Linked DNA regions of Homo sapiens: region 2 is linked to region 1. Evidence: fine-mapped expression QTL. A gene starts in region 1. The other region holds a variant in brackets. All regions are shown on one strand. Distances are between the middles of the regions.

Region 1 (15,026 bases):
GCCTCTCCTACCCTCAGCCCACTCTTCAGCCCCGCCTCCAGGTGGGCCCCACCCCACTCTTCAGCCCCGCCTTCAGGCCCCCAGCCCTGCCCCTTCAGCCCCGCCCCCAGGCTTGCAGCCCCACCCCTAGGCTTGCAGCCTCTCCTACCCTCAGCCCACTCTTCAGCCCCGCCTCCAGGTGGGCCCCACCCCACTCTTCAGCCCCGCCTCCAGGTGGGCCCCACCCCACTCTTCAGCCCCGCCTCCAGGTGGGCCCCACCCCACCCTTCAGCCCCGCCTCCAGGCCTCCAAACCTGCCCCTGCCCTCAGCCCCGCCCCCAGGCCTCCAGCCCCGCCCCCAGGATTCCAGCTACTCCTCTGACCCTCAGCCCCGCCCCCAGGCCTCAGCCCCGCCCCCAGGATTCCAGCTACTCCTCTGACCCTCAGCCCCGCCCCCAGGCCTCCAGCCCCGCCCCCAGGATTCCAGCTACTCCTCTGACCCTCAGCCCCGCCCCCAGGCCTCAGCCCCGCCCCCAGGATTCCAGCTACTCCTCTGACCCTCAGCCCCGCCCCCAGGCCTCCAGCCCCGCCCCCAGGATTCCAGCTACTCCTCTGACCCTCAGCCCCGCCCCCAGGCCTCAGCCCCGCCCCCAGGATTCCAGCTACTCCTCTGACCCTCAGCCCCGCCCCCAGGCCTCAGCCCCGCCCCCAGGCCTAAACCCAGACTGATGACCCCTGGCCACTGGACACTCCAGTCTTGTCTTTCAAGCTTCTTGGCTGCGCTGAGGCGGAAATGCCGTCTTTTCTAGAGCTGTTCTACGAGTGCAGAAACAGGGGCAAGGGGCTGGCCCAGAAACCAGCAGCGAGGCTGCGGAGCATCCCTGAAGATGGAAGAACCCTGCCGGGCCCCGTGGGACCGCAGGCCCCGGCTTCTCCTCCCTGCGTCCTCCCTCCACCCAGGGCAAGGTCCGCCCATACGGGAAGGAGGGAGGCGCGGCCTGGAACACCGCAGGCGGGGGCGGAACGGGGCCATGGTCCCTGGCAGGGCTGATTTCCATGGATGGGCCACTGCTGGGGAGCCCCGAGCCCGTGGGGAGTGGAGCTGGCACCGGGAGGAAGCCCAGACCTGGAGTCAGGCAGGCAGGCCTGCAGTCCCTGTGCGGGACCAGCCCCACCGCTCCCCATAAGGAGGGGGCCTCCAGTCCAGCAGCTCCTCCCCTGGTGGCTGGGAGGTGAGGGGGCGCCAAGCCTCTTTCTGGAAGGTGAAATGCAAGCACAGCAGCCTGTTACTGTGTTAGTGGTATTGCTTTCTCTGTATTTTCTTTCCTATATTCATTCAGAGATCCTGAACCAAGCATGAAGATGCTGTGGGCGACAGATTCCTGCATGTGCCTTTAGGTGGCACAGCCTACGCCGTTAACCCCCAGGAAACCAGGGCCCCTGATGGCTGGACCACCCCGCCTGCCCTTCACAACTCTCCCTGCGGTGCACCTGCAAACCAGGACCACACAGCGCCCTAAACGAGCAGGCAGTCCCAGCAGAGGTAGAGCCAGACCCCTCTGTGCCCAGCTCTGGGTGGAGTGGGTGACGTCAGAAGACATCGCCTACCACAAGTGGGCCCTCCTCTGTCCCCCACAGCTGGTCAGGCGTCCCTGACTCCCCTGGCTCCTCTGCCTGCAGGGTTGACATCATTGTATAGAAGGGTTTCCACATCCACGTGACCTTCTGGAGCTTCAGCCCACTGAGAGCTGGGAGGTTCCCTGTGGCTGCCTCACCGTACAGCTCACTGCCCAGCAGATGCCGTGACCAAAAGCATCTGTCCAGAGAGCCCACAGTCAGTCCCCCGAGGCCAGCAGCCATGCCCCAAGCTCACAGCCCAACAGCTCACTGCCCAGCAGATGCCGTGACCAAAAGCATCTGTCCAGAGAGCCCACAGTCAGTCCCCCGAGGCCAGCAGCCATGCCCCAAGCTCACAGCCCAAAACAAGGAAGAAAGTGACCCCGACAGTGGCCACCACAACACACACGCACAGCACTGGAGAGGGGATGGGGATGCATGCTCAGGGGATGCCTCAGGAAGCAGGGGATCCTCTAAGACATGAGGTGGGCACTTTCTGGCCTAGCTCACCATGCCTTCCTGCATCCACTGCATTTAGGGAGTAAGCCGGGCCTTCACGGGCGATAGGAGCACCACAGCACCTATGTCCAATCCGGAGTATGTGGGAGAGGAATGAGCACAAGCAGCTTCCTGGGAAGCTTCTAGAAGGCCCTGTAGGCAGGAGGCTGCTCTCAGGATTGGACTCCAGGGCTGGACAGAGGGATGGAGACTCCCACCTGGGCCGGAGGGCTCAGCTTTGGGCGCCCTGAGTGTGGTGAGCCAGGGGAGAGGGTGAGAGCCGGGGAGGAGGGTCGAAGGCAGCCAGGTTCTTCCAAGGGAAGTTATGGTTCAGGGCAGGGGCCTGGAGGCGGAGAAGCCACTGAGGATGACGCTGCTACATTCAGGAGGGAGAGCAGGTGTGAGGTCTCAAGTGACGGCAGCCCAGACAGAGAGAGGACGGGCAAGATGTCTTTGGGACAACGAATGGACATGCCGGCTGGGTGCAGGGCCAGGGGCACAGGGAGCCCAGGGAAGGGAGAACAAGGATGGAGGAGCCTCCCCAGATGGAAACCAGATCCAGAGCTAGATCTTGGGCTGCCTCTCACCACCTCTGGGAGGTCCCTGACATTCTGAGGTGGCGGCTGGGTTGGGACACAGAAGGGTAGCATGAAGAACCCACCAGAACACAGGGGCCTAGCCCAGGCTGCTCCCCCATCATCTTCGGCCTTTGCTTTGTGCCGACTGACTGTCCCCTCCCCTCTGGAATGTCAGCTCCAGGAGAGTGACCATCTCTGCCCCCGGGGCTTGGCGCATGGCTAGAGCTCACCCAAGACTAATTAAATGAATACCCTGGAAGCCACGTCTCCAGCTTCACCCGCAAGCCTGCAGCCAGCTCCACCACTCCTGCCTCCTTCGAGCAGTGCTGGAAGGAGACCCGCAGAGCCAGGCCCCTCCAAAGCGGAGGCTCACCCCATGGCAGGTGACACGCCAAGGGACAGGGAGGCCTCTTCCAGGGAGAATCACTGCGGGGCTGCCATCCCACTGGGCCCAGACCCACCGTCCCGCAGGATGCTGCTGGCATACAAAGCTGGAACTCAGCCTCCCTGGAGCCAGGAGGACCAGGGGATTCCAGAGGAGTCCCGCTCGCCTAGTTGGAGATAAAAGTAATTCCACACCCGATTCCTGCCAGCCATTTTAATAAATAAGTAAACGCTACAAAGCCTCAGGGAGCCCTCTACCACATTCGCCGGGGTGAAGGAGAGACGAGAATAGTCGCCCAGATCTGCTGCCAGCTGCCAGGCCCGCTTCTGGAAAGCCCAGCACCGAGGCAGCTTGTGCTGCTGCCGTGAGTCTTAGCACATTCTAGGGCGGAGAAGTCCGGAAGGGAGGAGCAGGGTGGCTGGAGCTGCTGTTCCTGGGCTCCAGGCCTATCCAGGGCCTCCACAGAAACCATCCACACTGGGGGCAGATCAGGGGGCCCTTGTCAGTGGAGAAGCCCCAGGACCATGTGCAAGGCAGCATTTAAGAAGAGACACACCAGACGCTATGGGCCCCCTGCATCTGCACCAACACAGGCCCCTGACACAGCCTCAAGGACAGTTCTCCTAACAAACAGTCATCAATCTACAGGGCTTTCCACACCCCAGTGCTCACTCCGGCCACCTGATCAGATTCTGGTCCTCCTTGTCCATCTCCACCCTGAATGCTGGGGCTGGACCATCGCTGACAGTGCTCCGGGTGACAGGTGGCAATCTGTAGAGGTCATTAACTCCAGAGCGCCACATTTTAATGCAAAAAGGAGCCCTTCTAAATCGGCGCAGATGCGAGCCTATATAAAGAAATGGGGATTTTAATGTTTTGCTTTTCTTCCCTTTTCTAGTGCCACATTATCATAACATTTTCCCATAATTACGCCCATAAAAGTCACCTGAAAATGCTTCATGCCACAAAAGTTGATCTACATATTTCATTCCGAGCATGTCGAGTGGCAGATCCTGAGCTCAGAACTCTGGGGCAGAACTTAGCTGGGGAGCCTGGTATGGAAGAGACCCATCAGGTGGAGCCTCCTTCTTGGGTTCAAGTGTCCTCTGGCCTCAGGGAGGTCCAGCAGGGACACCTGTGTGGACAGTGGAAGAGTGGAGACCCCCCTTCTGGCCCTATCTCAGTGAAAGAGCAGGGGTGGAAGGTGGGAGGGGACAGTGGGGCACCGCCAGGATCACCAGGAGTAAATGCGGCTCTCCAGGGCACTGTCTAGAGCCGCTGGGAAGTCCCTTCCCCCAGGGGTCCCTTCGGAAGTCCCTTCCCCCAGGGGTCCCTGCGTGGGAAAATCCTGTGAGGGGACAAACCTGCCTCTTCCTCACTGAGCCTAGGGCATGGATGTCGGCTAAAAGAAATCCCAGAGACAGATAATTTATATTTATGGAGCTGAAAAAAAACAAACATCCCATCTTCTTGTGCCCCAAATTCATCAAATAAAAACACAGTGAGAATTTTTTCAAAAAAAGATGAGAAATAAACTTCTGAACGGCACCACTTCATTAAGCCTCCACTGTTTTCCATTTTACCTCTTCGAGAACTCCAGAACAAAATTTGAACAGCAGGAAAGTAACATATTCTAATCGCTCCTAAATATGCAATAAATTGTATTTATAAAGGAAATGCAACACTACAGTGCCTACGCTCAGTTAGGATTCTAATGGATTCAAAACAATTCCAAAGTTGTTTGTAATTTCTTCTCATAGTTATAGATGAGGACATGAGATTTAACTGGAAGGTACAGCTCAATATTGACGGGATTTATTTGGAAATTTCCATGTCCAGCACATAGTGAACCTGTCTGTCTTCCTCACTCTCCCTGGTACGCTGAAATATAGTCTGGGTCCCCACCATCCACCTGCTCGTGCTGAATAGGGCACATGGAATCTAGGCTAGTGCAGAGTGTCCTTCACCTTTGATTTCAACGCTGCACACAAGGACCGAGTCAGTGCTTAGGTGTCATAGGGAGTTGCCCCAGGTCCTCATTTGCTTCTCTCCCTTGCTGCTGTTCTATCCTAGATGCCAGGGTGGAAAGATCACATCTTCAGCGGCGGGCACAGAACACCCTCAACCAGCTCTAGCTGGGTCAAGAGGTCCCATTCCACATCTAGGCAAGAACCACATCTAGGCAGACAGACTTCTCTACTCCAAATACGCTAAGGGGAAAACAACCTATATCAACTCTTTTTAAGCCACACCCAGAGAGGTTTCCTCAGACCAGAATGGAGAAGAGCTTCAACTTCCCCATCAAAGCTCATCATCATGCAAGTCAACTTATTACCAACCATCCAACAACCCTCATGGGCAGCACCGGCCGCGGAGGAAACCAAGCCTGCTGTCACCGTGATGGTCGCAGACCACCGAGCATGCATTTTAAAGTGAGCCATCCAGGGCCCCTTTCCCCTGTTTGCGTCTCCTGGCACTTCTTCCCCAGGAGGAGAAAATGACAAGGCTGTGTCACTATAGCAACTAGCCTAATTGGTGGACTGCAGGTCTTTCTCCGGCCAGACGGTGGAGCCCATCTCCTTCTATATGGATCCCAGCACACGAGAAAGAAAGAAGGCCGGACTCTCACTGGGCCAAGAACAGTAGAATCCCCCCAACAGAAAACCAGGCCAAGAAAGAATCCAGTTTCCTCCTAGCTGCACTAGGAAGCCAGCACCTTATGTGTTGCAGAGAAACACACAGATTTAATAGGCAGGATAATTGAACGCTGTATGATACTTATCAGTTTCCCTAATTAATATGATACAAATATATCTGCTTCATAACACAAAGACATTTTGAGTAATAAAAATCCTTACTGATGACAAAAACAATTTACAAACGAGAATACGAACTATTCTTCTTCATCCCAGATCTATTGGAAGAAAGAATGAAAATCCTAGGAACTGTTTAATTTGCATTTAATTTGCTTTATCGGTTCTGAAAAAAGGGGGGGGGATTTTTTTTCTCTAGGACTGCAGTTCCAAGCTATAAATTATTATTATGTCTATTTTGTATTTTAGTGAAATGTTTTAATTTCTCCAAGTACATTTCTGGTGTAATGGGGTGTGTCTCTTATTGTCAATTATTCCATTACATGGAGATGGAAACAGCCATAAAAAATGTGCTTCACCCAAGCTTCTGTTATTAATTATTTCTGCTACTCTGGTAAGACCTTCTTACCAATTGTCCTTGTCCTGGCGAAAGGCTGTTTCCAGAACGCTGGGGAGGCCTCCTAAGGAGGAGGGATGAGTGTGGAAACCAGATCTCCCATCCTCAGCGTGTCTAAGCAGCAGGCTCAGATGTCTGTGCTGGGACACCAGGACTCCACTCGGCAGAGCAGGCGACAGTCTCAGGAAGGTGTGAGCCCGTCCGGATGAACAACGTGCTGACACCTTAGGATTCAGGATGCAGCGCAGGGTGGGAGAGGGCTGACGCTGCGTGTCTTGAGACAGTGTGTACCGCGCTCCTCGCGGGCTCGGGAAGTGCGGTGTTGAAGCCACAGGGCCCTGGTGTCAAGTACTTCGCAACAATTAGCAGTTGTTCTTTTCCACACCTGCTGAGCTGCTGGGGGTTGGGGGTGAGGTGTTGTCCTGGGTTCTAGCAGCCAGCCAGGGATGGGCCGCCTGTAGTGGGCTCAGGGCACTACAGCCCCTCCCCAAACACTGCTGAATGAGCCCCCTCTCCCTCTCCTCTCCTCTCTCTCCTCTCCTCTGGGGTGATGCCACCAGGAAGTGCATTCAAATGCCTCCTCTTCCGCACAGAGTTTACCTGCCATTAACCCTTTCTACATCTCCTAGGAAGCCTTGCTTGGGGATCTTCTAGGGAATCCCCCCACATACCCCTGCAGGCCCCGTGACGGCCGCGGAAAACTCGGGGGCAGGCACAAATGTCGCTCAAACCCCCAGACCCTGCTCCCTGCAGGCGGCCAGCCAGTGAGTTCCCAGGGGCGCCGGCGCACCCACGGTGGCCTCGTCTGCCTGGGCAGCTCGGGTTGAGACCCCCAGGCTTGGCGACCCCTCCCCGCTCGGTGCCACAGCATTTCTAGGGAAATGCATAACCGCGCTGAAGCAAGTAGGAAAATTCCTGCTCTGGTCCCCGGGTTTCCCTTGCGATCCTGGCGAGCTGGGCTGTCCCAGGACTCCGGAGGCCGATCCCGCGGCTGCCCGGGTCTCCCTGGGCCACTGTGCTCTCATTTTGGCGACAGCGGAAGGATCAGATCGGACTGGGAGCTTGGAGGCCCGGGGCTCTGGAGGAGGTGGTGTCTGTGGAGGGAGGTTCGGTGCTGGCCTTTTTTTTTTTTTTTTGTAAAGAATCCATATTTTTCCATCACCTCCCGCGCCCATGGCAATTCTCCATGACAGGTGCTCCCCAGCACCCGTCCTATTCTCCCGCTGAAGACAAGAAGCCCGGAGCTCCCGGAGCTGAAGCCGACCAGCCCGCGCCATCTGGGGCCAGAGCCTGTGCCCGGGACGCTGAGCGGCCCCCACTTACCCCACCAGCCGCGAACGTGCCCCGGGATGCTGAGCACCCTCCCCAGCGCCGAGGCTGGAGTCTGCACCCGGGACTCCAACCACCCCTCATTCCACCCGCCTGGAGCCTCGGCAGGGGCACAGGCCACCCCCCACCCTTCACTCCAGGCAACAGGGAGCCCGCGGCGGTCACCCCCTACCCCAGCCCTCAGCTCACGCCCGGGCGCCCACTGGCCCGCACCACCCCAGCCCGCGCCCGCGCCAGTCCCGCCGGTCACCAGCTCGGGCCCCAGACACGACCCGAGAAACGTCCGCGGCCGCGGCGAGCCCCCTCCGGGCATCCCATCCCTCACTTCGCTTCTCTTTCCAGAAGGCGCCTGACGAGCCCGTTTCCCGGGAAAGCGGAAGCTCCAGCTGCTCCTCCGAGCCCAGGCTGGGCTCCTGCCTGAAGAGCTCCTCTCCGGGCTCGGCCGCCGCCTCCCCCCTTGTCCCGGGCTGAGGCACGGGGAGGGCGCTCCGCAGACACCCCGGCAGCGCCGCCCGCCCTCCGCGACCTGCGGCTGCCTCCTGAGCGCGCATCTCGGCCGGGAAGCCGCTGGCTGGGCTCCGACCGCCGGGCAGGGACGGGCCGCGCCACCCGGGGCCTGGAGCCCGGGCCCTGCCGGGGAGTCAGGGAAGGGAGGCTCGGGCCGGGGCGTCCGACCCCGAAGTGCTCGAGCGCCCGGAACCCGGGTGGACCCTCTCGCCCGCCCAGCGCAGCGTTGGACCGGCCGGGACTCGGGGGACCATGCGCCCGGCGCTCGTAACTCCGCGCCGACTCCGGGAGGCCCGCGGGGCGCCTGCCGGGGCCGGAGGAGGGGGTCCGGGGCCCAGAGGGCCGTGCCGGGGCCGGGGCCGCGCGGTACTCACTGCAGTAGGCGATGAGCAGGCTGGCCAGGATCATGAACGCCCAGAAAGTTGAGGACATGCTGGGCAGGGCGGTCGCATCTTGCCGGCTGCCGGTCCTGGGCGATGGCGCCATTGAAGCCGCGGCGCCCGCGCGGGGGGCAGCAGCGCGTCTCAGCAGCCGGCCCTGCCCGCGCCCCCGCGCCGGCCTCCACGTGCGGGCCCCGCGCGCGCCATCCTCCGCCGCCGCCGCCGCCGCGCCCGGGCCCCGGCCCACCGCGCCCCGCGCCGCGCCCGCGCCGCCCGCGCTCGCGCCCGCGCCCGCCGACCCCGCGCCGGCCCGCCAGGGGGACGCCGGCCCCGCTCTGGGCGTCACTGCGCGCCCCGGCTACGCGCGCCCCGGCATCCGCGAGAGAGGCGCGCGCCCGCCACCGCTGGGGGCTCCAGCCGCCCGCCGACCCGGGCCTGGCAGAGGGGACGCGGCGCCCAAGCCGCTCCTCCGGATGGCGACAGAGACGGCCTGACGCGCCCGCAGCCTGGGCCCCCCACGGGGAGGACGGCCGGGCCAGGTGAAGTTCGCGCACTTGGGCCTTCCGCGCCCCCATCCACCGCAGCCAGGGCCTGGAAGGCTGGGGAGGGGGCGGGGGCGGCAGACGCCTCCTAAGGTGGGTTCTGGGACTTGGATCCGGAGTTTATTCCAAGGAGAGGGTGCTCTGGGCCTGTTCCCTAGGTGTGCCCTGTTACCCAAAATCGGGCTTGTGCAGTGGGGTCCCTGAGTCCACTGGGAGCACAGCCTCAGACCCCAGCAGAGTCACCCTTCATCGGAAGCCCACCACCCTGAGGGCTCCTCCTCCACCTGGGGCGGCACTGCCAGGCACAGGCACGCACTTTCCCTCAGTCCTCTGCCCCACGATCACTCTACTCGGGCACCTCTGCCACTGCCTGGTCCTTGCTGAGCCATCTCCTGGTTCATCTCCCTGGAGTCCCTGCAGGACCGGCTCTCAGTGGCGTCTCCGGGCTCCCAGTCCCAGGACTGGTCCTATCCAGGTGGGTTTTCTGAGCAGGATGACAATGATCGCAATCTATTTTACCTGCATAGTCAACGATCATCTGCAAGACAGGTTCACTCCTATAACAAGCAAAGGATGGGGGGAAAATGAGCCTTGTAAGGACACAAGGACACTTTCCCCATCTCCAACCCTCCTAGTCATGTCCCCTCTGCACCTCCCTCTACAGCCCAGGAGATACGCTCCCCAGTCCAGGATGTCCAGATGGCCCTGCTGCCTGGAGAGGCTCTGGCCCCTGCCGGTAGCTGCCACAGCACCACCCCAAGCTCTGCCTTCCTGCAGGTTCGTGCACACGACTAATAGAACCCCTCCTCTGGAACTCACAAGATATTCTCCATCCTGCATAGGGCTGGGGGCTTGAGCACCCCAGGAGATTCTTTTGGCGCTGGAGACCCTTTTCTGAGGAGCCAGTAGAGGGCCTGCAAGTCAGATTGAGCAACCAGGGAGAAGAAGCATCATCCCTTCATCTTGAGGCCTGGTCCAGGGAGGTGAAGGGATGTGGACTGTCCCCAGCCGTACACTCACCCACAACTCATGCATGCAAGCATTCATGCCCCAATGCACACACAGCACCACACACACACATATTTTCCTTGAATCTCTCTCTCTCTCTCTCACACACACACACACACACACACACACACACACTCTCCCATCCACACACACACAACACTTTAGGAGAAACTGAGCAAAGAAAGGCAGCCTCTCACTGCGAGTCCTCTAACCCCCGTCCCAGTGGTTGTTGTGCACTGAAGCTTCCTTGCCAGGGGCTCTGACGGGATTCTTGTGTTAATATGATTGTGTCCATGCTTGTTTTCTCCCATCAATTTTGAATCCTGTTTAATTAAAACGCTGACTTTCCTGTTTAGTATCTTCTCAACTGCAGCTTCTCCCCGCTCTCTTTCCTGGCAGGGAGGTGATTCTGCAGAAGTTGGGGCTCCTGACAACTTTGGGGTGGCCATGAGGGACGTACCTCTTGCCTCTGGATGTGCAGGGTGGGCCTGGGACCCTGGCAGGGAGGGGCTCCCTCAATGGGATTCTGTGGAGTCAGCCATTGATGCCCAGGTCTCCACCCTTACAATTTCATTCCTTTCATTGAAGCCTTTTTTCCTGCTAAAAAGGATGTGGCTTTTAAAATGTTACAGATTCCAATTCATCCTGTCCATCCCGAACTCCTGTGCCAGACATTCCTTCATTCAACCTCTGTTTATTGAGCAACTACTTGGGCCAGGCACTGGGACTGGGGAAGCCAACAAGACATAGATTTTCTGTCCCCCTGGAAAGTGACAGTCAGTTTGAGAAACAGACAAGGAAACAAACAATTCCAGTGCAGTGTGGCAAGCGTCACGATGGGAGGGAGAGGAGAGCACTCTTGGAGCACAAGAGAGGAGCATTTACCCTAAAATCACACTCTAGAACACAGCAAGGTGTGTGCCAGGGAAGGCTTCCAGGAGACTGGTTTCCAGGCCCTTTTGGTCCATCCTTAGGACAAACACACACACACATGCACACATATATGCACATACATGAACACACACACGCACGTGAACACACAGGCACACACATCCACACACACGCACATACATGCACACACATGCTTTAACACACATGCACACACGCATGCACAAACATGCTTGGAGTGAAACTTTCCGAAGCAATATTTACCCCAAAAATACTCTGATGTTTTCTATTGTATCCTAATTCATTTTTGAAATGCTGGTTGCCCTCCCAATAATTTGGTTTATAGTAATTTTCTTTCTTTAAAAAATATGGTTTGAAGAGAGATGCAGTCTACCTTGACTTTGGGAGGGTATATTGGAGGCTTCTTGCCAAAGGACAGGGGCTGTGGTGACAATGGGGTGGCTGGGGAGGGCTCCCAAGCAGAGGAGAAGGGGTGCAGTGCGGTACCCGGCCTGCTGTATCCAGGAACTCAGACACTGAGGTTTTTGTGCTCGCAACATTAGGGCTATGGCGGGGAACCTTGGGCTATGGGAGAGCAGTGCCTGGTTCATTACATGCTGAATATTTCCAGAAAAAGGGAATGGAAGGGGAGCCCTTGGTGCTTATGACTTGGAGTCTAGAATGGTGGAGAGTCTGAAAATGGTGACGCTAGAAAAGGTGAATTCTCCACCCCAGGTTACAAGTAGACGGACCTGAGGAGTGGGGAGGCAGGGGGGAGGTGTGGGGTCCGAGATCAGATTGAAGAGATGGGGTCTCCCTGGGACAGCAACCTTGAGGTAATTACAAAGACACCACCCCCGGGCAGCCCGAAGGCAAGGGCAGGTGCCTGGTCCAGCCCCATCCCGGCCTTGTTTCCAGAGGCCTGGAGAGAGAGACCAAGATGGAAATTGAGGATGGGGGGTGAGCGCAGCCTGAATTCGGTTGCTAGGGAACAGAAAGCTCTGCTCTGGATCGCAACACACGCTACGGATTGACGATTTTGTTGTTGTTGTTGATGGGCTGGTTTTGATTACTAGCCAGAACTGACAGGAGTTTAGATTTTGAAACCTAAATAAGTCTATTAAGGAATCACACCATCACCTTAACTCCTACCCAAAAACGCAGGGGATGGCAATGGTGTAACCCTTGAGGGAGTCCTCGGCTCTCACCCCACACCAAGCCACCAGTCCTGGGACTGCTTCAGAGGCCTGACCCATAGAAGGGGCATCCTGCATGGCGGGGCACCCAGGGTGTCGGAGGAGGGCAATAGAAAAAGGGGCGTTACCCAGAGAGGAGGGGCGGCTGACCAGGGTGCGGACCCAGGCACGTACTGCAGTCAGGTGGCAGCCTCGCTGTCCTCCTGGGGATGTGAGCCCACTGCTCGCTGTGTTCTGCTGTGGTCGGCGGGGGTGGGTTGTTCTCTCTCCACTCCTCCCTGCGGTGAGGGTGTTTTCTATTTGCCATTAGGTTGCGGGTGCCCAACTGACCAAGGGCTTGCTGAGATACTGAATTTGGAGCTGAATGTTTTCACGGGGTGAGATGTCAGGATGTCCCTGCTGATACAGTGGGAGAAAAAATGTATTTTATGCAAGGCCAGCGCTATCTCCTAAAGGAAGCACACAGGTCTCTGAACAGCAGGTCGCGAAAGGTGGGGGCTGTAGCGGGCTATTGTGCCTGCTCTCCCAGGGATCTGTGCCTCCCTCTGAAAACAATTGCAGGCTTTCACCTTCCACACACATATCCCATGTGCATTTTACCAAGAGGTTACTCTGACAGCTGGGGGAGGACCCAGGTTGGCAGAGAGAATTGAGCCAGCTTGGCAGTGGCTGGGAAGATCCAGATGAGAGCCGGGGTGGCTGGCTTCTCAGGAGCAGCTGTCAAGGCAGGGATGTGGGGGGCTTGGCAGCTATCCAGGAAGTAGAACTGACAGGCTATGGGGACTCCGGAGTGGTGGGCATGGCAGAGATGTCCCAAGTGACTCCCCAGGCTTCTGGCTAGAGAACCTGGGCATGGCTGGGTGTGGTGGTTCCCGCCTATAATTCTAGCACTTTGGCAGGCCAAGAGGAGAGGGTAGCTTGAGGCCAGGAATTCAAGACCAGCCTGGGCAACAGAGCAAGACCCCCATCTCTACAAAAAATCAAAAAGTTAGGCAGCATGGTGGCACACACCTGTAGTCACAGCTACTTGGGAGGCTGAGGTGGGTGGATCGCTTGAGCCCATGAGTTCGAGGCTGCAGTGAGCTCTGACTGTATAACTGTACTCTGGCGTGGGCGATAGAGGAGACCCTGTCGAGAAGGAAGGAAGGAAGGAGGGAGGGAAGGAAGGAGAAGGAAGAGAAGGAGGGAGGGAGGGAGGAGAGGGGAGGGGAGGGAAGGGAAGGGATTCAGAGGTTGAAGTGGGAGTATCACTTGAGCCCATGAGTTCGAGGCTGCAGTGAGCTCTGACTGTATAACTACTCCGGCATGGGTGATAGTGGAGACCCTGTCAGGAAGGAAGGAAGGGAGGGAAGGAGGGAGGGAGGGGGGAGGGGAGGGGAGTGGGGGAGGGGAGGGAAGGGGAGGGGAGGGGAGGGAAGGGATTCAGAGGTTAAGGTGGGAGAATCGCTTGAGCCCATGAGTTCGAGTCTACAGTGAGCTCTGATTGTATAATTGCAATCCAGTCTGGGTGACAGAGGAGACCCTGTCAGGAAGGAAGGAAGGAAGGAGAAGGAAGGAGAAGGAAGGAGAAGGAGGGAGGGGAGGGGAGGGGAGGGGAGGGAGGAAGGCAGGCAGGCAGATCAGGGAAGTAGCAGGGATAGCCGTTAAGATGGGCCCCTCCAGCTGCTGGGAATGGACTTGACCAGTAGAGAGCTCAGGCACTTCCTCAGCAGCTTCCAGGCCGAGAGAAGAGCTGCAGCATGCAGGAAAGAGAAGCACAAAAGGCCAAAAGACGCACAGGGAGGAGGGGCGAGGCCCAGCAGGCACAGACTGTGTGCCCCGTGAGAACAGAGGCCACTTTGGTGCTGAATTCTCAGCCCTGAAAACAGTGCTTTGCAGACAGTTGGTAAATGACATGAATGCACGATTGAATGATAATTATCCATTTTATTGATCCAGTGTAGTAATGACAATAAGTAATATTGATACATCCCATACTAAGGGCCAGGCACTAGTCCAAGTTCCCCCATATACTCACTCACTTAATCTTCATAACAGCCCTAGGAGGCAGTCGATACCTGGATTTAAGGACGTTGAACCTGGGGCAAGGAGGCCTGCAGGCAATTGTCCTGGGATTTGTAGGCAGCCATGGGAGCTGAGGTTGGGATCCAGGTGGTGTGCTCCAGAGGACCTGCCCTGACGGCTGTGCCCACGGCCTCTCATCACCAAATCTCGTTCATTAAAAAAATACAAAATGGGGAGACAAGCAAAAGGAATACAGAATGTTCCTCAATTCTGCCACGCTGAGTTCACCACATTTAGCATTTTGTTAATATCTTTCACATCTTTTTTCACATATATGTTCATCCTGTAAATATTTTTTACACAGTTTTCTTAGTACACAGTGAATATTATTTCACGGAATTATATATTCTTCCAGAACATTGTGTTTTCTGGCGGCCTGAAATTCTGTAACACATAAATACTGCCGTTTATTCAATCAACCTTGATTTTTGGACATTTAGACAACTTCTAGTGTTTGGAAAACACTTCAGAAATGAACACCCTTTTACTGAAATCATTTTCTATATTTATGGTTATTTACAGAAAAAATTACAGAACTGGAATTGTTAGGTCCAAATAAGGACACAATTTTGAGGCCTTGCTGTACATTGACAAATTAATTTCCAAAAATATTAATATTAATTAGCATCCCTACGGACAGTGCGTGAGAGGAGCCACGTCAGTCTGTTCGCGTCAGCACCAGATATCATCCCTGGTGCCAGTACCTTCGACAATTTTGCCCGTAGGAAGAAGTTTTACTGTTGTTTCCATTTGCATTCCTCTAATAAGGATTAACAATTTTTATGTATGTCATTTTAGTGTCTTTTGTAGATCAACTGTTTATATTCTTTTTCAAATTTTCTCCT
Region 2 (15,026 bases), 88 kb before region 1:
GGTGCGTGTGCAATGCCCAGGCAACACCCACGCCACCTCTGCCTGGGGTCATAGAGAGAAGAGAGCCACGTGGCTGCACCTGTCCTGCTATCCTCTGGGATCTGCACCCTCCCTTGACCTCACTGGGCCACACTTGCCCCAGCTGTGAAGGTCAGGGCAGTACCTTCCTCCTCAGGAAGCCTCTGCAGAGGCCCAGCCAGCGAGGGCCAGGGTCAGGGTCCGGGTGAGGATGGGGACAAGGCTGCAGGGGCAGAGGCCGAAGCTGGGGTCCACCCTCCTCTCCCTTCCTCCAGAACGCCAGGCTGGGCCCACGGGGTGAGCTGCAGACTGTGTGGTGTTTGGGGTATCGTGTGTGTGCGGTGTGATGGGTGTAACGTGTGTTTATGATGTTTGGCTGTGTGTGTATAACATGCATGTGGTGTATGTTTGTGTGTGTGTGTCTTGGCATGTGTTTGTGTGGGGGTGTGTTTCTGCGCTTTGTGTGTGCGTGGCCTTCACAGGGTATGTGTGGTGTGTGTGTGGTATGCGTATTTGGTATGCGTATGTGGTGTATGTTATGTGTGTGTGTTGTGTGTGGTATATTCTGTGTCTGTGTATACGTTGTGTATGTTTGTGGTGTGTGTGGTGTGTGTGCATAATGCATAGTGTGTGTGTGATGTCTAGTGTGTGTGGTGTATTTTGTTGTGTGTGGTATCTGTGTGGTGTATTGTGTGTCTGCGGTGTGTGCTGTGTGGTATGAGCAGTGTGATGTTTTTTGTGAGTGGTGTGTGGTATCTAGTTTGTATGGTGTATGTGGTGTATTTTGTATGTGGTGTATGTGTGGTGTATTTTGTGTGGTGTGTGGGATGTGGCATGTGTGTGATGTGTTGTGTGTGTGTATGTGGTGTGTGGTGTGTGTGGTGTGTGCTGTGTGGTGTATGAATATTTTGTATGTGTATGTGGTGTATTTTATGTGTGTGTGTGTGAATATTTTGTATGTGTATGTGGTGTATTTTATGTGTGTGTGTTGTGTGTGGTTAGGTGGTATATTATCTGTGTATGTATGTTGTGTATGTGGTATGTTTGTGGGTTTCTGTGTGTGTGTGGTGTTTGGCATGTGGTATGTGTGCACAGTGTGTCGTGTGTGGTGTCTAGTGTGTGGTGTATTTTGTTGTGTGTGGCATCTGTGTGGTGTATTGTGTGTGTGTGCGTGGTGTGTGCTGTGTGTGTAGTGTATGCTGTGTGTGTGATGTTTTTGTGAGTGGTGTGCGTGTGGTATCTAGTGTGTGTGGTGTATTCTGCATGTGGTGTGTGTGTGTACATGTGAATGTGTGTGATGTATTTTCTGTGTGGTGTGTGTGTGATATCAGTGCAGTGTATTTTGTGTGTGTGTGTGTGGTGTGTGTGTGTGAGATGTATTTTGTGAATGGTGTGCTTGTGGTATGTGGTGTATTTAGCGTGTTGTGTGCTGTGTGTTGTATACGTGTGTATGCGTGTGTGCTGTATTTTGTGTGGTGAGTGGCATGTAGCGTGTGTGATGTGTGTGGTGTGTTGTGTGTGTGTGGAGGGTGCGTGTATATGGTGCGTGTGGGGTGTGTGGTGCATTTTGTGTGGTGTGTGTTTGTGGTGTATGTGTGTGTGATTTGTGCTGTGTGTGTGGTGCATGTGTGATGTATTTTGTGAGTGGTGTGTGTGCATGCGTGTGTGGTGTGGTGTGTGTGAGGTGTATTTTGTGTCGTGTGGTGCATGGCATGTAGTGTGTGTGATGTGTGTGTATTTTGTGTGGTGTGTATGTGTGTGTGTGTGTGGTGTATTTTGTGTGTGGTGTGAATGTGTAGTATATTTTGTGTGTGGTGTGTACGTGTGTGGTGTATTTACATAGTATATTTTGTGTGCCATGTGTATCTATGTGTGTGGTGTGTACTGTGCGTGTGGTGTGTACTGTGTGTGGTGCACGGTGTGTGTGGTGTGTGTGATATCTGTGTGGTGTATTTTGTGTGTGTGTGGTCTGCTGTCTGCTGTGTGTGGTGTGTGTGTGTGTGGTGTGTGATGTATTTTGTAAGTGTGTGGTGTCCAATGTGTGTGGTGTATGTGGTGTATTTTGTGTGTTGTGTATTTTGTGTGGTGAGTGGTGTGTGGTGTGTGTATGATGTATGTGATGTTTTGTGGGGGGGTGTGTGCATGTGATTGGTGTGTGTGTGTGGTGTGTGTGTGTGATATATTTTGTGAGTGGTGTGTGGTGTCTGGTATGTGTGGTGTATGTGGTGTATTTTGTGTGTGGTGTGTGGCGTGTGGTGTGTGGTGTGTTATATGTGTGGGTAGGTGTATATGGTGTGTGTGGTATATTTTGTGTGTGGTGTGTGTATGGTGTGTGGTGTGTGGTGTGTGTGTGGTGTATGAGGTTTATTTTGTGTGGTGTGTGGCGTGTGTGTATGATGTTGCGTGTGTGTGTGGTGTATTTTTTGTGTGGCGTGTGTATATATGTAGTGTATTTTGTATGTGGTGTGTTGTGTGCTGTGTGGTATGTTTGCATGGTATATTTTCTGTGGCGTGTACTGTGTGTGTGGTGTCTGTGTGGCACATTTTGTGTGTGGTGTGTGTGGGATGTGGCGTGTGTATATTTTGTGTGTGATGTGAGGCATGTGTGTGGTGTGTGGTGTATTTTGTGTGTGGTTTGTGTATGGTGTATTTCGTGTGTGGGGTGTGGTGTGTGTATATTTGGTGTGTGGTGTGTGTGCGTGATGTGTGGTGTGTGTGGTGTATTTTGTATGTGGTGTGTGGTATGTGTATATTTTGTGTTTGGTTGCACTGTGTGGTGTGTGGTGTATTTTGTATGTGGTGTGTGGTATGTGTATATTTTGTGTGCGGTGGGTACTGTGTGTGTGGTGTGTGTGTGGCGTATTTTGTGTGTGGTGTGTGGTGTATTTTGTATGTGGTGTGTGGTATGTGTATATTTTGTGTTTGGTGTGCACTGGTGTGCGTATTTTGTGTATAGTGTGTGGTGTGTGTGTGGTGTGTGGTGTATTTTGTGTGTGGTGTGTGGTGTGTGTATAGTGTGTGGTGTGTGTGCGGTGTGTGGTGTATTTTGTATGTGGTGTGTGGTATGTGTATATTTTGTGTTTGGAGTGCACTGTGTGTGTGGTGTGTGGTATATTTTGTGTGTGGTGTGTGGTGTGTGTGTGGCGTGTGATGTGTGTGTGGCGTGTGGTGTATTTTGTGTGTGGGGTGTGTGGTGTATTTTGTGTGTGGTGTACTTTGTGTGCGGTGTGTGTGGTGTATTTTGCATGTGGTGTGTGGTGTATTTTGTGTGTGGTTTATTTTGTGTGTGGTGTATTTTGTGTGTGGTGTGTGGTGTGTGTGTGGCATGTGGTGTATTTCGTGTGTGGCGTGTGTGGTGTATTTTGTGTGTGGTGTACTTTGTGTGCAGTGTGTGTGGTGTATTTTGCGTGTGGTGTGTGTGGTGTATTTTGTGTGTGGTTTATTGTGTGTGGTGTGTGGTGTATTTCATGTGTGGTGTATTTTGTGTGTGGTGTGTGTGGTGTATTTTGTGTGTGGTGTGTACTGTATTTTGTGTGTGGTGTATTTTGAGTGTAGTGTGTGGTGTATTTTGTGTGTGGTGTGTGGTGTATTTCGTGTGTGGTGTATTTTGTGTGTGGTGTGTGTGGTATATTTTGTGTGTGGTGTGTGGTGTATTTTGTGTGTGGCGTGTGGTGTATTTTGTGTGTGGTATGTGGCGTATTTTGTGTGTGGTGTATTTTGTGTGTGGTATGTGGTGTATTTTGTGTGTGGTGTATTTTGTGTGTAGTGTATTTTGTGTGTGGTGTGTGGTGTATTTTGTGTGTGGTGTATTTTGTGTGTGGTATGTGGTGTATTTTGTGTGTGGTATGTGGTGTATTTTGTGTGTGGTGTATTTTGTGTGTGGTATGTGGTGTATTTTGTGTGTGGTACGTGGTGTATTTTGTGTGTGGTGTATTTTGTGTGTGGTATGTGGTGTATTTTGCGTGTGGGGTGTGTATGTGGTGTGCAGCATATGGTGTGTAGTGTGTGCAGTATGTGGGGTGTATGGTATGCGTTGTGTTTTTTGTGTGGTGTGGGTGTGTGCATCGTGTAGTGTGTGGTGTGTCTCTGTTGGGGGGCACCGCAGTGCGTGTCTCTGGGAGAGGTGGGCTCACACACAGAGCCCAGGTAAAAGGAGAACGAGGAAAGGGCCGCCTGCCCCGACAGGCAGGTCAGGGCTCCCACAGTACAAAGGCTACCGGGTCCCATGGTTGGTCTCAAAGGAGCCCTGTCCACTCACTGGGTGCGTGTGTGAGCGAACAGTCCCATGTTCCACGCAGACCCACAGCTGCGTGCTTCGCTCCATGTTTTCTGTCTGCTCAGATCGCAGTGCAGCCACAAAACTATGTGTCTCTGCGTAAATAAGGTGAGGATGCCTCCCTCCCCTCTCCAGGAACACAGGAACACCACTGCCTGCGTGCGCTGCTCCCTAACGAAGGGGCTGTATTTTAAATGAGGTTTATAATGCATGATCCTGTAGTTTATGTTTAAGAAGATCACACACAATGATATGAACACCTATGAGCATTTAGTTATGCATAAGCAGGCACGTGTACACACACACATATGCACACACATGAACATGTCAGCAGTGAACCCTTCCAAGAAGGTTGCCCCCGAACCCGGCCTTCTCCAGGCCCAGGGGCTCTTGGGCTGTGTCTGCAGCCAGCACTCTACTGAGCACGGACACGGCCTCGCCAGTGGCCCCTCTCCTACAGCTCCGCGCGCCCAGAGACGGGCAAAAACCACCCACCTCCAGACCACCGAGTGGGGAATAAAACCATTCTCCGCACGGCTTTCTCGCACTGTGCTCAGCACGGCAGCAACATGGGAGACTGATGAGTTTCCACAGATGCCGGCGGCAAGATCAGCCGCAATCCAATCCTCCCGAGTGTGCAGTGGGAGGGACCCCCAGCTGGCCCCGTCCGTCCACTGCCAGCCTGGCCCTCGGCAGGGACTGGCTCGGCCCTTGCAGGGAGGCCTGGGAGGCTGGGACTCCTGTGCCCAGCAAGGCTGTGATGAGCCACCTTGTGTCTGGAAGTCACCTCCATTTCCAGTCCTTTTATATTCTAACTTTTACAGTTGTCAGAGACACAGCAGATGAGAATCCCATTACGGTGAGTGTGGGTTTTATTTAGATTCTGTGTCACACAAGAAATGATAGTAAATGATGATAAAAGAGTTGGTTATTTTTAACGCCTTTTCATTTCCACCCCTCCCAGCAGCCATTCACACCTACCTGGCCTTGCAAACAGCGTCTGCTGGAGGGTCAGGGAGAGGCAGGCTGAGGGACACCTGCCATGTGGGGCTGGCACTGCGATGCCCCTGCGCTCTGTCTGCCTGCACACCTCATCAGGGCCATAAAAACAATGCACCCAGGAAGTGGGCTAGGGAAGCCCCTGGGGCCCCTAGACAAAGCCCAGCACCCCTCCACACGCAGTCTGAGACTCAGGGAGAAATGAGCAGCCAGCTCCAAGCTCGGAGCCTGGCGGCCGGGGCAGCCCCATGCCAAGACTGGGTGCAGGGGTGCAGGCACAGCTGGCCGTAAGCATTGAGAACACAGAGCTGCCGAACTCCCTCCTCCTTCCACACACACCGCGTGCAGTGAGTTCCTCCTCCACCGTTAGACACTCAGAATGGAGCCCGGTGCAGCCTCGAGCCCTCACCAAGAACAGCCTTGCTGCTCTGGGAAACCTCAAGGGCATCTACCAAGCCCTCACCCAACCCATCATGGACCATCCACAGCCCTAGCTCTATGCCTCTGGGACAGAATGGCTGTACGCATTCAGCAAATATTTTTGATGGAGTCTTAGGGCCGGGAACTGTGCTGTGTCTCCTAAGAAGTTCTCTATCCATTTCTTAAAAAATAAACTGATCCATCTAACAGATAGACGAACACTCTGCATTGGCTGCTAATCTTGTAAAGACAGCATCAATTAATGATGACTGCGCGGAGCCATAACCATTCATACACCATCAATTGCCTTCACGGAGCTGAGCATGCCCCTTGTTACGGGCCACATGGGTTTGCAGGAGGACGCCTCATTTCCGAAAGAGCCAGCTAACTAAATCAATGGAAGTTGAATCCGTTGACTCAATCAACAGTCTGCCCTCCGAGCAGCTGCTCAAAGACAGGCACGCCACAGCGGTTCTGAAAGCGCTTCTGGAATCGAGGCCCGGGTACACCGTGCCGCGGCCGCTGGACGCAAAGTTCTCAATATTAACCTGCAAAAGAGGCTTTTGCACAGCACGTTCAAGCCGTCGAATGCACTCCCCTGCCACCAAAAGGATTTACCGAGATAGAGTTGAACCTCAAACCCACATTTAAAGGAAAGAGGCACTGGGTTCTCCCTCCCATTCAGAAAGGATCGGGCCGAATGATTTCCCGGCTTTCTCATGTCCCTTTGGGTGCCAAAGCCCAGAAACCTCTCTGCCGCTGTGGCCTGCCTGGGTGGCCCAGGCTTGCCGCATTCCTTCCTCTTTGAAGTATTTTCCTATCCTTCTGTTTACATTAAGCTTCCACACCAAAGCCTGCT[C/A]ATCTGTGCTGGAGTGCTGGAGTCCAAGTGACTCAAGACTTCCAGAAAAATATTGTAAAGTCTTTGGAAGAGGGAGGTGGAAAATATTTTTATACTTCTCGCCGTTTCCTTAACTCCGTATTTGGAGGCCAAACATGATGATGGAGATAAAGTGCTGGCTTCCCTCTCGCGTCTCCGTGACACACGTCGTCTGCACCCTAAGGAAGCGGCCGGCTCTTCCATCAGGGTCCTGGGATTCCCGCCCTCGTCCCCCACTTTAACTACACCCCATGCAGACACAGCACGTGCACACACCAGGCAGTTCAGAAGAAAGGACGGCTCTCCCCTCCCAGAGGAGGGTCAGCGTGTCCTAAGGATGACAAGGCAAGAAGAGCAGCTGCCCAGGCCCCAGTGCCGGACCCCACGCTGCGGCCCTGCTTTCTTCCTGGGCCTGTGGCTGCCCAGCCAGGCCTGGTGCGGTGGGCAGGACCTGTTCTCACAAAGCTGGGACATACCGAGGCTGCAATTATGGACCGCAATTTGCCTCTCTCTCGGTTCACAGCCCTATTCATCTCCACAAACACTGGAAGACCAGAGTGGCCAGGGGGGGACGGATTAGCCACGGGGTGGCCTCTATCTCCACACAAAAGGAGAAGTGTGGAAAAACGGCTCCCTGGGTCCCCCATTCTTCACCCCTGAAGAAAACAGATTCATGAAAATGGCTATTTAAACAGCTCTTTCCCACTCAGGCCCAGACAACAAGTCACAATTGTCCACCCGCCTGCCTTGTTCCCTCCCTCCTGCTGGACAGCGGCTGCTGGGAGGAGAGTGGCCCCAGGCCGAGCCCATCAGCCAGGAACCAGAGTCGGCCACCCCCCTCCCTGCACCTCTCACTGCTGGTCCCCCAGGCCTCCCCTGGGGCTCCTGATGCCAAGGGGCCAAAAGGCCGTCTCAGCAAGGACAGGGAGGCTGCCCAAGTCCTGACCTTCCAGACAGACAGGCAGCAGGGCTCAACCCAGGGTGGTGAAGGCCACCGCTTCCGGACAGGGAGACAGGACTTCAGGAGTCCTGGAGGGCTGCGCAAACACTGGGACCCGCAATCGCTCCTCCAAAGGTACCTGTGCCCTCAGCGTACAGCTGACCCCATCCTCATCCCACCTTCCTATGACTGCGCCGTCTTCCACAACACCGACACACGTGTGTCTGCTTCAAGGTAAACATGGAGATCTCTGTGAAGGGCTAAATCCACAAAAAGTACTCCACTAAGCGAGGCCTGCTCCACACCTAGACCCTCCCATCTGGGAGACAGAAACTCTTTCTTCTTGGCCAAAAAACAGAGTCCTTTAGACCTGGAGCCTCAGGGGGACAGCAGAGCCCCCGGAGGCACCTGCACTGGGGCAGCGCCGCAGGGCGAGGCAGAAAGGAAGCCCTTGTCACAGGCCGGCCACATGGCCAGGAGCTTCTCCCGTTACTAACTCACAGCTTCAAAGTCAGTGGAACTTCACTTCATCACAGAGTGTCAGGATGCAGCTGGGCACCTGGACCTCAGAGAAACACTGAAATTTTCACATACACGCCCTTTCCGCAAGCCAATCCCCCAGAGACTTCGAGATCAGCCAGAGAGGCAGAGAACTTGCAGCGCGAACACAAACAGGCCCAGCAGAGCAGGGACCCCTTTGCCAGGTACCTGGAATGCACCAGGGGTGGCTCCCACAGTCCTGACACGCGACACCAGCAGAGGACAGCCCTCGCGGGCTTGCCTGGACCCAATGACTCCTCAGCAGGAAGGATGGCCTCCCCAGCCCCAAGTGCTACTGCCCTATGGCAGAACCACCCACTCCTGAAGTGGGTCAGCAAGGCAGCAGGAAGAAGTTGGGCCTCCCACCTGGGGAAGGGTCCCCGCAAGCCCGGGCTGGCAGGCCAAGCCCGCAGCAGAGTCCTGGGGTAGCCTACTCTCCCTTCAGACCTGGCCCTCCTCTGTACTAGGTGCCCACATCCAAAAGCAAGGGAGGGAAGTGGACACCAGGCCCGTGGAGGTCACAGGGTCTCGGGCCGGGCTCCTGCACCTACCTGCTTCCCCAGGCCTCCGGCGGCTCATTAATTAGTCAGGAAAGCAGCTGAATGTTGCAAGCCCTTCCTCTGCAGGAACCCAGAACTAATGAGAACCCAGCGCCTTACCAGCCACACAGGCGCCCTCCGGTGCTCAGCCTTCCCAGCGGACCAAGGGGAGCACCAGGCGGAGCTGGCCCAGCCTGTGTGCCAGAGCACTAGTAACCATGAGCAGGGGTGCCCGGGGGGAGGCCAACGCCTCAGTTGCCCCCAGTCTGATATGACAGGCCAGGCTGATCCCGGGGTGCACCGGGAGCCCTGCAAAGGGAGCCTGGCCCTGAAACCAGGAAGTTTCCAGGAGTGTGTCTGGGGTGCCTGGAGCCGACCGACCGCCCATCAGGGGAGGTGTGGCCCTGCCCCCAACCCCCAGTAAGATGCTTCCCAGTACAAAGGGCCTCTCCAGCCACGAGGGTCCAACCGTTATCCTGGGCGCCTCAATAGTCCCAGACTGCCCTGCAGTCCAGCAAAGACCAAGAGAGCAGGGGCAGAACTTGGCGCGGGGACCTGCGCACCCCGGTGACCAAGCCCCTGCTTCCCAAACCTATGGGTCTCTGGAAGGCGGCTTGGGCCCTGGGGAACAGGTGCGCAGGCCGGTTTCCCGACGTCCGCGGGTCCCAGCCCGGCGCCCACCCTGGCGGGTCCCAGCTCCGCTCCCGCCCCAGCCCGGCCGGCCACCGTGGAGCGCTGGTGCCATCTACCGAGGGCCCGGCGGCGTGCGGGCGGGCGCCGCTGCCACCGAGCCCAGTGGGGCAGGGGATGGGAACGGCAGCCTCGGCTTGGGCTGGGGATCCGGGGCGGCGCCAGAGGCACCGAGAACGCAGCGCGCCCCGACCCCGCGCCCTGCCGGTGAGCCCCGATGGGCGCGGGGCAGCGAGATCCGCGGGGGGTCGGGCTCCTGGTAGGGTCGCGCCGCCGGCCGCTCCGGGCCCGCAGTGGCGCTCCACGAGCCTCAGCCGAGCGCGGCGGCAGCGGAACGTGCTGGAAGCCGGGTCGGGCGCCGGAGCCGCCGCGAGCCGGGCAGAGCGCGGAGGACCGGTCCGCGCGCCCGGGGACAATTACCTTCTTTGAGGAACTGCGCGTGGATCACTAGGACGAGGAAGCAGCAGAGCGCGGCCCCTGCCAGTGCCCAGAGCGCCTTCAGGAGCTGCATCGCGGAGTCCCAACTCGGCCGACGCCCCCGAAGTCGCGCAGCGAAGGTCCAGGCGCCGCATCAGCGCCCCGCCGGGTGCAGCCTCCGCGGCCGCCCGCTCGCGCCCTCCATCCGCCGCCAACGCCGCGCTCCGCCGCGACTGGAGGCGCCACTCCGGGAGGCGATTTGTGTCTTTCTGGGCAGGGGGGAGGGGAGCGGGCGGGGGGAGGGGGGCGCCGCGGAGGGGGCGGGCGGGGGCGGGGAGGTTAGCAGAAAGTCTCGGGCCGCGGCGGCCGCCGCTCCGACCACTCGGCCACCATCGCTGGCTGCGGGGCGCCGGGGGGCGGCCGCCGCGGCCCCATGAATCAGCCCCGCCGCCGCCCCCGGAGCCGCACCGCCAGCAGGGCCCGGACGGCGGGCCGCGGATTGCGCAACGGCCGGGCGGCGCGGGGGGGGGGGGGGTCCGGCGCGGCCCCGGCCCCCTCCTCCGCCTGTCGGCCCCCACCGCCCGCTGCTCGGCGTCGCCTTCCTCCTCCTCCTCTTCCTCCGCCGCCGCCGCCTCCTCCGCCGCCCGCGCTCGCTCCGGCCCGGGGCTCAGGGGGCCGCCGCGCCGCCGCCGCCACCGCCGCCGCGGCGGGCCAGGCTCGGGGCCGGGGCTGCGCGCCGGGCGCGGGGCTGCCGCACCATCGCCGCCGCCGGGGTCCGCGCGGCCCGGCCGAGCCCGCGGCGATCGAACTTGCGCGGCCCGGGGCTGGCGGGCCGGTCCCCACCGGACGGTGCCGGCCTCTGCGCTCCCAGCAGCCCGCGCCTCCGCCGCCGCGGCCGGGACTAGGTCCGGGCCCACCGCGCCCCTGGGCTGCCCACGCTGGGCCGCCGCTGCCGGTGTCGGTGCCGGTGCCGGTGGCTGCCGCGCCTACAGGTGGGGCCGGCGACGCTGCGCGCCTCGCCGCCCGCGGGACGCCGCTGCTCCGGCCTGGAGGCGCGCGCCCGCCCGCTCGGCTCGGCGCCGGCTCCTCGGGGGAGGCGGCGGGAGGGGGAGCGCGGCGCAGTCGCTGCCGGCCCAGGTGGCCGGGCCCGCGCAGCCTCGGACTCCGGCCCGCGCCCGCCGCCGTCTGCGCTCCTCCCGGCCGCGGAGCCGCGGATGCGCACTGGGCCGCGAGGGACCCCGGGGACCCCGCCCTGCAGCGCCCCCGCCTGGCGCGCCGGCGGGTCAGGTGGGGCCGGCCCAGCCGAAAACTGCGGGTCGGGCTCCACCTAGGTGCGCAGGGGCCTCACTGCAGAGCCGGCCCTGCTGGCGCGGGAGACCGGACGCGGGGCCTCGAGTGGCGCCCAGCCTCCCTCGCACCCAAGGCCCCAGGAGAGACAGGGAAACCCCAGGCCCAGGTACCGCCCCAGCCGGGCCCGACCAGCGGCTGGGAGGGCTCGGAGGAGGCTGGTCCCGCGGCTTCTGAAAACGGCACATCTGCCTGGAAACACACACAAACACACTCACACCTGCCCCTACTGTGTACCACCCTCCAGCCAGCTGCCCTGCACCCAAGAGCGTGGGCGCACTGTTAATGCCCACGTTCCGTTCCAGAGGAAACAAACGGATGCCTCCCTGCACTGCCTCCCTTCCCGCCTCTAGGAAGAAAGGGTCTTTGTTTTAGGCCACTTTTGCTCCCCAACCCCGCTCCCCAGAGCAGGGGGCACAGGTGTCCTCGTCAGGGGTTCGCCCCAGAGCCCAGTACCAAGACCAGTGTGGTGGGCCTCAAGGTATTTTTGCCTGAATTGAATTTGAAATTCAATTTCAAATGACCAGAAAAGAGCAGTGGGCAGGAATCGGGGCCTAAGCTTCCTGGGACCCTGAACCTCTCTCCTGACCTGTGCAGGGTGGGGGCAGTGCTGGTGCCCGCGGTGCATGTGGTTCACATGAAGGCTGTCTCCTCCTTGCACCAGTATTGACGTGCCAGGAAGGGAAAGAGGCCTGGCCCTGAAGGGCTCTTGGAGGTCAGATAGATCAAGGCAATCAGTATGCATCTGGGGAAACTGAGGCTTATAGAGGCATGGTGACTGGTCTAACATCAACTAAAAAGTCAAGGGCAGAGTCAGGACCAGCCACTAAGCTTGATGCTGTCTGCCTGACCTGGCTCGCGGTGCCCAGCAGCCGGCCAGGGGAGAGGCCATCCACGAAGCAGTTCTTCACCTCTGGCTCATCACCCTCCACCTGCCCCCGAAAACATCCAGGAGAGACAAGAATGTCCCATCCAACTCCTCTCACCTAAAGGAGTGGCCCCAGCCTCACACCAGCCAAGCAACTAAGCAGCTGTGGATCTGCCCTGGGAGGGACTAGCCATTCTCTCTGCTCAGGCAATCCCCTTCAAAACCCCATTTCCTATAAGCACCCCACTGTTTCCTGCTCTCCACCCCTAGACATTCTCTAGGAAAGATCTAAGGTAGCAGCTCCTCAGGAACCCACCCTGCCTGGCTCGCAGAGCCTGACCTCCAGCAAGGTCGTTGGCCTTCATCCCTCACCTGGCACAGGGCTCCCCAGTCAGAGGACTCGGGGGTCTTCTGGGTGCTTATCACATGTGCTCACCCCTGGCCCCCAAAGGGACCTCAATCAGGAGAGAGAGCCTGCCCTTGACACTCACTGTGTCCCCAATCAGGTGCATATCATTTGAAATTCTGAAAATAGAAAAGTGTGCTACGTTCACCAAGGGAATATTTAAGAACTACAATTGGAAGATCCTTCTGTAAAGAGAATTAAAGAGGATAAAGGAGAAAAAAAAGAAAGTTCATAAATAGAGGCAGGCCCACCAATTCACTTTCAACAGGTGGGACAGGAGGACCTCCATACCTAATGTTGGGGGACCACCATCACACTTCTCCGGGCACCAAGGCTTCCTGTTAGTAAATGCATGTGGCATTGCTTACACTTTTAAAAGCAATCACAGCTGCAAACTCAAGAACCTCGTGTAGGGCTTCCGAAGAGTGAGTTAACAGTGCAGACCAAAGAGGCCCTGGGTGCCATTGGGAAGTCAGCTCCAGATGGCAGTGTGAACACCTGAACCAGATAAAACCAACACACATCTCAGGAGGAGACACCTAGGGTTCTCATTGACATGACAGGAAAAACCCTTTACAAATACTGAAACCATTACTGTGTTGGGAATCAAAATGCTAATCAAAATCTAAGCAAGCCAGAAAGGGTGAGGGGGTCCTGGGCCCAGTCTCTGGACAGAAGAGAAAAAACTGTGGTGGGAACCAACAGAAGGATGCCCACATCCTCCCGAGAAGGTGAAACAAACCAGGGGCATGGCCAGGTGTCCAGGCAGGAGGGCACTTGGCCAAAGAGCTGCACTTCCACAGTGCCGGGTGGGTGTGTCTTCCCCCAAACCCCTGCAAACTGCTGCTTTAAGGCTAGTGTAGCTCAGACCAGGGCCAGAGGAAAGCTGTCCACAGAGGGGGTGCCTTCTGCCCGGGGACAGTCCCCACAGTGCCTGAGGTGTGGGACTTTGGATGGAGAAAGTGAGCATTTAACATGTCTCTAAACGAAATTTAACACTGCCTTCAGTTAGGCATGTAGGCAGTAAACACAATACTTCAGCCATAACTATGACTTTGTCACCAACAAAAAGCACAGGTATTTTCATATCACATTACAGCTCTTGTAGCTATCTCAGTCTATTGCTTATTTTCACCATTACTTCAAATTATGGTCGTCCCACTACTAGACTTTGTATGTAATGTGTTCATAAAGAAAACACATTACTGTATCAAAAATAGGCTTTTTACCATTTGCTAACTGCATGTGGATATAATTGATCTTCTTCATCAGGTATTTTTAGTTTGTCCTGAGATGGGTGGCACAGGCTTCACCAGACTTCCAAACAGGCCCATGGCACACAAAAAAAGCCAGGAACCTGCTTCTGGAGTGAAAAACTCAAGGTCTAAGAAAAAACCAGGGCAGAGCAGAGTTAAGGACTTTGGTCACTCATGAGAAGCAGGGTCAGCAGGTCCAAAGGTAGCACAATTCCTCCCAAGAGTGAAATGCACAAAAACACCTGTCCCTAGGGTCAAGCCGCCAGCACCAGCAAATGTGGGGACCCTGTTTGCCCATCGGCTGCATGCCCACTTCCAGGGTGGCCCATCTGTCTACACACCTTGCTCATTCCCAGGGAATACAGTAAGTGCTCATGGTCAAGTGAGAAGCCTGTTGGGCTACACAGGGTAGAGGTGATTCACACTGACCGGTCACTACACACACTTCAACCTTTATTCCTATACAGACAGGACCTAGCAGGCAGAGATCACTAGGTGTTTGCAGAAAGCTAGAGGCATGAAAGAGAAGTCAGGCTCAGCTGTGCATACTCTACACTTGAACCTTAGGGGACAGAAATAATTCAGGGAAAATAATCATAACCGTAATTGTGATTATTCTAAATAGTATCATTCTCAAAAAATTTGAAATAATATGGTATCAATAAGAGAAAACCAGGCTCCCAAGGGGGAGAAAAGGCAAACAAGAGAACAAGGAAAAAAACTCCTGGAAATTAATGTGAGTGGACCATTTTAAGGTCTAGGGTATACACTGAATGGTAAAATGGGAATGAATGAAGACTGGGCTGTGGAAAGTAAAATCAAATATGTTTATAAGAGTGGAGAGCACATAGAAAGGTGAAAAAGTATGGAAAATTTGAGACCTAGAGGGTATATCCTAAACATTAAACATCCAACTTTCATTTATTAGAAGTTCTAAAGGAGAATAAAAGGCAACAAAGAGGAGGAAATAGTCAAATAAATAAATGCACATCTTCAGATTGTAGAGACTTACCATATTCTGATTAGATCTAATGGACAGACCCCTAGATCCAACCAATGCAAGAAAACCTTGCAGAATTTTTTTTTAAAGCAAAAAAAAAAAAAAAAAAAAAAAAAAAAAAAACAGGCCAGGCACAGTGGCTCATGCCTGTAATCCCAGCACTTTGGGAGGCCAAGGCAGGCAGATCACGAGGTCAGGAGATTGAGACCATCCTGGCCAACATGGTGAAACCCCATCTCTACTAAAAATACAAAAATTAGCTGGGCGTGGTAGTGGGTGCCTGTAATCCCAGGTACTCCAGATGCTGAGGCAGGAGAATCACTTGAACCCAGGAGGCAGAGGTTGCAGTGAGCCGAGATTGTTCTACTGCACTCCAGCCTGGCAACAGAGCGAGACTTTGTCTCAAAAAAAAAAAAAAAAAAAAAAGCAAACA

Which allele goes with the higher level. Positions count from the first base shown, and alleles are read on the strand shown. Sizes are in standard deviations (SD) of each study's normalised expression.
For the expression in aorta of the gene that starts at base 8,629 in region 1, allele C in region 2 goes with a lower level than allele A (moderate effect, 0.43 SD a copy in GTEx).

Evidence for each region.
Region 2: its variant is fine-mapped to the expression of TAFA5 in aorta (GTEx, PIP above 0.99).

What each region holds. Positions count from the first base shown.
Region 1 is chr22:48,483,156-48,498,181 of GRCh38, reverse strand. It overlaps TAFA5 (TAFA chemokine like family member 5), which reads right to left and starts at 8,629. Exons shown (of 4, transcript NM_001082967.3): 1 at 8,478-8,629. The coding sequence starts at 8,589. RefSeq lists enhancers at 494-1,353, 2,216-3,076, 6,046-6,551.
Region 2 is chr22:48,571,265-48,586,290 of GRCh38, reverse strand. All of the region lies in intron 1 of TAFA5 (TAFA chemokine like family member 5), which reads right to left. It overlaps LOC124900480 (a long non-coding RNA gene), which reads right to left and starts at 9,251. Exons shown (of 2, transcript XR_007068144.1): 1 at 8,622-9,251. RefSeq lists an enhancer at 8,639-9,145. The variant C/A (reference allele first, on the strand shown) is at 6,573.